Homo sapiens: one gene and its partner. The protein of the gene in region 1 interacts with the protein of each later gene in a pairwise test. Each region holds a gene or a part of one and is shown in the gene's direction. Other genes may lie near its edges.

Region 1 (3,500 bases):
CAGCCTGTTCAGCATTATGAAGCCTTGGAGAATGGCAGAGAGAAGGCTTGAAAGCAGGAATCAAGGTCCAAGACCTCTGCTGAGATGTCAGAGGTCACTGTGGGGTGTGGAGCGGGGAGCTGGGAGATGAGGCTCCCCATGCCGATTGCCACAGCTGCAGGGAAGCCCGGGAAGCTGTGGGCACTGGGTGCTGGAGAAGAGGGCAGAGTCGGAGGGTCGTGGAACACACAGGGTCTACTTTTATCAGAAAATGCTGTTAAGAAACTGGCCCAAGAGAATGAGAGGTTATGAAGTCTGGAAAGAGAAACGTTTTATCTCTAGCGCTGGAACTTCTGTGATAGCCCGAGGCAATCCTGTTCAGCTAGAGACCTCAAAGAAACTGCTTCCAAAAAAAGACATCTTTGCCCTGGTGTTTGTAACCAAAGGAAGTCAGAGGTGGCTGGATGGAGAGAAAAATGAAAGCAGCATCTTGGGAGAGATGCCTTCCAGAGTACAGGGGATCAGGTGGCCGAGAAGCAGAGGAGGAAGGAGGGGAGATGGAAGGTCAGGTCATTTATCATCCTTCCAGGGAGCAGGAGCTGGGGACCCAGGGCAAGGCGTTGGGTGAACTTTGTGCTAAGCGGGTCTGTCTTATTCTGCATTCCCCAGAAAGTGGAGCCTGAGGCTAAGGCTTAGGTGCTATTTTAGTAGAGTGTAGTCCCAGGAAGCGAGGGGTGAAGGATCAAGGGAATGAAGCAGGAAGGAGGCAAAGGCAGCTGGTTCAGGCCCGGGGCAAACCCACCCTCATCCCTGGAGGAAACATTCCAGGCCCTCAGACAGTCATCTGGGTGAGCTTGGGTGGAACTTTTCAATCCGTAGGTGGCAACCCATGGATAAATTGTGAAGCCAACTCAGGGAGTCTTGACTAGCCTTTTTGGTTCGTGTACAATTTTTTGTAGAAACATATGCTTTCATTTCTCCTGGGTAAATGCCCAAGAATATAATGGCTGGTTAATACTGTAGAAGTGTGTTTAACTTTTTTTAAAAGTTATTACGAGGCTTTCAATTCTTGAACAAATTCATCAATGCTTGGGATGGTCAGTCTTGTAAATTTCAGCCGTTCTAACAGGCATGGAATGGTGTCTTCTTGTGGTTTAAACTAGCATTTTCCTAATGACTAATGATGAAGATATTTTTGTGTGTTTATTTGTCTTCCATATATCTTTTTTTTTTTTTTTTTGGTGATGTGTCTTTTTAAAAACTTTTGCCCATTGAAAATATTAGGTTGTTTATTTTCTTACTATGGAGTTGTTAGAGTTCTTTATATATCCTGGATCCAAGTCTCGTATCAAATATATGCTTTATAAATATTTTCTTCTAGTCTGTGGCTTGTCTCTCTCTTTTTAAACATATATATATTATATATATTATATAATTATATATACTATATATTATATACATTATATATACTATATATATTATATACATTATATATATTATATATTATATAATTATATATACATTATATATATTATATATTATATAATTATATATACTATATATTATATACATTATATATATATATATGTAGATAGAGACAGAGAGACGGGGTCTCATTATGTTGCCCATTCGGGTCGCAAACTCCTGGGCTCAAGCGATCCTCCCGCCTCAGCCTCTCAAAGTGCTGGGTTACAGGCATGAGCCACTGCGCCTGGCCTTGTCTTTCTCTTAACAGTGTCTTTCAGCCGGGAACGGTGGCTCACGCCTGTAATCTCAGAACTTTGGGAGGCCATGGCGGGGTGGATCCCGAGGTCAGGAGATTGAGATCAGCTTGACTAACAAGGTGAAATCCCATCTCTACTAAAAATACAAAAGATTAGCCACGTGTGGTGGCGTGCGCCCGTAGTCCCAGCTACTCAGGAGGCTGAGGCAGGAGAATTGTTTGAACCTGGGAGGCGGAGGTTGCAGTGAGTCGAGATCGCACCACTGCACTCCAGCCTGGGCGACAGAGGGAGACTCTGTCCCAAAAACAAACAAACAAAACAATGTCTTTCAAAGAGAAAAGTTCTTAATTTTAATGAAGTCCAGTGTTTTCTTTTAGGGATTGTGCTTTTGGTGTTGTATTTAAGAAATCTTTGTCTAACCCAAGGTTACAAAGATTTCTTTCCTGTTTTTTTGTATAAGTTTTATAGTTTTAGGTTTTGCATTTAAGTCTGTGATCCATTTTGCATGAACTTTTACATATAATAAGTAAAAAGTTCTTTTACGTTTTTGCGTGTAGATATCATGTTTCATGACCATTTACTGATGAAACCATCCTTCCTCCACTGAAATGTTTTGCACCTTTGTCGAAAATCAGTTGACCACACTGTGTGTGGGTCTATTTCTGGAGTCTGTATTCTGTTCCATTGATCTGTTTGTCTATCTTGATGCCAATACCACACTATCTGGATTACTGTAGCTTTATAAGAAGTCTTGACATCGGTAATATAAGCCTGCTAACTGTGTTCTTTTTCAAAGTTGTTTTGTCTATTCTAGGTTCTTTGCATTTCCAAATGAGTTTTAGAATCAGCTTATCAATTTCTACAAAAAAGTACTGGGAGTTTGATTGGGATTTCAATGTTTTTTTTTTTTTTTGAGTTCTGGAAAATGAATATGAAAAATTGTAGAGATAATTTAAGATCAAGGATGACTCTATTTTACTCCAGAGAGAATTTACTTTTACTCTTGGCTTATAGCTGGGGGCCCTAGCAATCTCGGATCACCTTGATCAATATGGTGATTAAGACAAAATGGATTCAGCCCCTGCAAGGACTGGTCTAGCTCTGTTTCATCCTTTTCTCTAGGGTGGAATTCCTCTGAGTTCTAATTCCAAATATGGAGCTTCCATCAGAGGTCCCCCTCCTTCAGTGAAAGAAGGGATGGGCAGATAAGATGGATGAATGAGAGGATGGATGGATAGATGGATGAGTCGATGGGTGGATGGGTGAGTGGAGGGATGTGTGAGAGGGATGGATGGATGAATGGGTGGGTGGATGAGTGGATGGGTGGATGTTTGAGAGGGATGGATGGGTGAATGGATGGATGGGTGGGTGGACGCATAGAGTTATGGGCAGGTGGACAAATGGATGGATGGATGGATGCATGGATGGTGGGTGCATGGATGGATGGTGGGTGCATGGATGGATGGTGGGTAGATGGATGGATAGGATGGATGGGATGGGTGAGAGAGAGAGATGGATGAATGGACTACAGAGAGCTCCACAGCTCCTCAGAGGAGCTTAGAGGTCATTAGGGGTTCAGCAGATGCCAAGTGGCACCACGTGAATCCATTTAAATGTTGGTCCCCATAGGGTTCCTTTGGAAAGAAAACAGTTTCATGGCTAAAAGTAATCCTGAAGCCTCTGCTCTAGTCCAATCTCTGCCATTCATAGGTTTTCAGGGCCAGAGAGGGGCGGGGCCTTTCCCAGTGTCCCACAGCCAGTTAATGGCCAACCTGAGACTGGGTCCACATCTTCTGA
Region 2 (3,500 bases), on another chromosome or scaffold:
GAGGTGGGGGTTGCCAGGACAGTGTCAGAGGCACTCCAGAGACCTAGGGCAGTGCTGTTTATTAATCAGAATGTGAGGGCTTCAGTATTCTCCCCTTCCTTCTTGCTTGTCAGTTCTGCCCATCCATTTAGGCATGGGGAGCCCAAGTCAGCTGAAGCGTAACACTTTCTCCCCTCTTTAGGGCTTTTACTACAAGGATCCGAGCATTCCCAGGTTGGCAAAGGAGCCCTTGGCAGCTGCGGAACCTGGGTTGTTTGGCTTAAACTCTGGTGGGCACCTGCAGAGAGCCGGGGAGGCCGAACGCCCTTCACTGCACCAGAGGGATGGAGAGATGGGAGCTGGCCGGCAGCAGAATCCTTGCCCGCTCTTCCTGGGGCAGCCAGACACTGTGCCCTGGACCTCCTGGCCCGCTTGTCCCCCAGGCCTTGTTCATACTCTTGGCAACGTCTGGGCTGGGCCAGGCGATGGGAACCTTGGGTACCAGCTGGGGCCACCAGCAACACCAAGGTGCCCCTCTCCTGAGCCGCCTGTCACCCAGCGGGGCTGCTGTTCATCCTACCCACCCACTAAAGGTGGGGGTCTTGGCCCTTGTGGGAAGTGCCAGGAGGGCCTGGAGGGGGGTGCCAGTGGAGCCAGCGAACCCAGCGAGGAAGTGAACAAGGCCTCTGGCCCCAGGGCCTGTCCCCCCAGCCACCACACCAAGCTGAAGAAGACATGGCTCACACGGCACTCGGAGCAGTTTGAATGTCCACGCGGCTGCCCTGAGGTCGAGGAGAGGCCGGTTGCTCGGCTCCGGGCCCTCAAAAGGGCAGGCAGCCCCGAGGTCCAGGGAGCAATGGGCAGTCCAGCCCCCAAGCGGCCACCGGACCCTTTTCCAGGCACTGCAGAACAGGGGGCTGGGGGTTGGCAGGAGGTGCGGGACACATCGATAGGGAACAAGGATGTGGACTCGGGACAGCATGATGAGCAGAAAGGTAAGGGGGCCAGGAGGGGCTGCAGGCCCTGCGTGGGAGGGGGCAGCCGGGGCTGGGGCTTCGCATGGGGCGGGGTCTGTAGGCTTTATGAGTGGACCACAACCAGTGGTCAGGCTCCCACCTGGATCACGAGGGCTCTCTGGGAGTTCCTCAGCATCTCCAGGCCAGAGCCTTCCAGCAAGTATCTTCTACCTCTGTCTCCTCCCAAGCCCTGGTGTGTTGGTGGCAGTATAATGACATAGTTCAGAGCATGGCTCTGGAGCCAGAGTGCCTCGTCCCTGACTTTGCTGATTGGTAGCTGTGTGACCTCGGATGAGTTGCTTCGCCTCTCTGGGCCTCAGTTACTTCATCTATAAAATGGGGAAGAAGACGGCACCTACCTCAGGAAGACTGCTGCAAAAGTTAAATGCTAGAATGATTCATAGCAAGGGCTTGGAAGAATTCCTGGCACCCAGTGAACACTCAGTAAATGTTCACCGTGATGACTGCGTGTGCCACAAATCCCTGTTTGGGGATTGCTTGTCCTGAAGGATCCCTTGTCCTGCGCCAGGAATGGCTGCTCTCTTGGCCAGGTGGAGCTGGAGACTCAGTTTGGACTCTGCCAGTGTTAGGGCTCTGGGCGCACCCTGGAGTCACTTGCTACACTGTGCCCTCCACGGAGGACCCTGGCACTGCCGGCTCCAGCCTTAGTTCTTTGGGATCACTTCGGTTTTTTCAGCTTCCTGGACGGCTGGGTGTGGATCAGCTCTCTCCGTGGCCTTGCCCAAATGCCCTGCACCTGGCATGGGCCTGTCTGTGCCCTCTGCCCAGGCCTCTGCCCTGGCTGGGAATTTGTTGGCCCCTTCGCCTTCTTGGGTTACTGCACCTGTGGCCTGTGTCGAAACTCTCTGGCCCTTCTCACCTTCCGGCGCCCTCCGTCCACGTTGGGATTGTCTCCTCATGTCACGCAGCCAGTGGTATCACTAAGCCCTCAGTGGAGCTATCCAAAGTCTACACTGGCTGGATCCTGCACTTGTGTCAGGACGATCGCCCCAGCTGCCCAAAGCCTTGGGCTCAACACACCAGACAACCTCTTCGCTCGGCTGCCGGTCCATGTCACGGCATCCTCAGACTCCCTGCTCAGCCTGGCGTGCGAGCCTTCCAGCTGCCTGGTCCACTCTTGCTGGTTCTGAATTAGGCTTCAGAGACCTGGGGCGAGGAACTGGGCTGGCTCTGAGTGTGGATGGGGTGGGCGCTAAGGTGAGGAATGGGGTTCTCAGCAGCCCAAGAAACCCAGATTCCTGACCTCTGCATTGTCCCCTCAGGACCCCAAGATGGCCAGGCCAGTCTCCAGGACCCGGGACTTCAGGACATACCATGCCTGGCTCTCCCTGCAAAACTGGCTCAATGCCAAAGTTGTGCCCAGGCAGCTGGAGAGGGAGGAGGGCACGCCTGCCACTCTCAGCAAGTGCGGAGGTGAGCCATTGCCCCTGGACACCTCCAGTGCCCCCTCGCCAGGGCTCCCTGCTCACCTCCCCCTGCCCTCTCTCCAGATCGCCTCTGGGAGGGGAGCTGCAGCAGGAGGAAGACACAGCCACCAACTCCAGCTCTGAGGAAGGCCCAGGGTCCGGCCCTGACAGCCGGCTCAGCACAGGCCTCGCCAAGCACCTGCTCAGTGGTTTGGGGGACCGACTGTGCCGCCTGCTGCGGAGGGAGCGGGAGGCCCTGGCTTGGGCCCAGCGGGAAGGTGAACAGGACCTCCTGGGTCTGCGTGGGGTCTCTGTGTGGGGAGCCCCAGGTGTCCCTCCCCTGACCCCACCCACACTGCCAGCTCCTAGACCTAAGGCAACCTCAGAAGAGCCCCTGGCCTGGGTGGGGACATCAGGAAGGTGTCAAACTGGGTACAGCCCAGTTCTCTGGGAGTTTTTGGGCTTGTTGGGAAAACAAGAATGAGTGCCAAGTATCTGCAAGGCACTGGGAGGTGGGGGAGCTCCTGAGGGCTTGGGGGTCAGGCGAAGCTCCCGGGCCTGGAGGGCTGACAGGACCTGGGCTAAGGTCCCCTCTGGCTGCAGGTGCTCCCTTCGGTCGCCCTTCCGCAGCACAGAGAGTTCCTCATGACCAAAGGCTGCTGGTCAGTCTTTGGGTGGAGACCCCCGGGGCTCCCTCTTGCCCCAGACAGGCCAGGCCCCTTGGTGCATCTTCAGCAGGCTCCCTGTCAGCTCCTGCCACTCCCAGCCTGGGTTCCCAGCACACACGCCATCCATCCTTCCCTTCCCGGCTCCCTGGAGCTTGTCATCCCCTCGGGCCTTGGCACTGGCTGTCCCTGTGTCTGGAATGCCCTGCTCCTCCCTTTCTACCTGGTGAATGAAAACTTACTCATCCTCTGGGGCCCACTTGGGAAGCTCTCCCGCATTCCCATCCTCACCCTTCCCTGGCATTTTCCATCTCCAGCACCCGCCTCGTGGTGCCACAGTCATCGCTGTATTTATGGGTCCATCTCCCTACCTGGAATGTGTGCACTGCGAGGCAGGGGCAAGTCCTAACCAC

Evidence for each region.
Region 2: the proteins of MGAT5B (region 1) and HR interact in a two-hybrid assay, tested with the Homo sapiens proteins (one large-scale study listed by BioGRID).

Annotation. Positions count from the first base shown.
Region 1 is NC_000017.11:76,934,404-76,937,903, forward strand, and holds part of MGAT5B (alpha-1,6-mannosylglycoprotein 6-beta-N-acetylglucosaminyltransferase B), read left to right. Parts: intron 1-3,500. UniProt on the Homo sapiens protein: Glycosyltransferase that acts on alpha-linked mannose of N-glycans and O-mannosyl glycans.
Region 2 is NC_000008.11:22,124,511-22,128,010, reverse strand, and holds part of HR (lysine-specific demethylase hairless), read left to right. Parts: intron 1-181; coding exon 182-974; intron 975-2,278; coding exon 2,279-2,429; intron 2,430-2,506; coding exon 2,507-2,700; intron 2,701-3,500. UniProt on the Homo sapiens protein: Histone demethylase that specifically demethylates both mono- and dimethylated 'Lys-9' of histone H3. May act as a transcription regulator controlling hair biology (via targeting of collagens), neural activity, and cell cycle.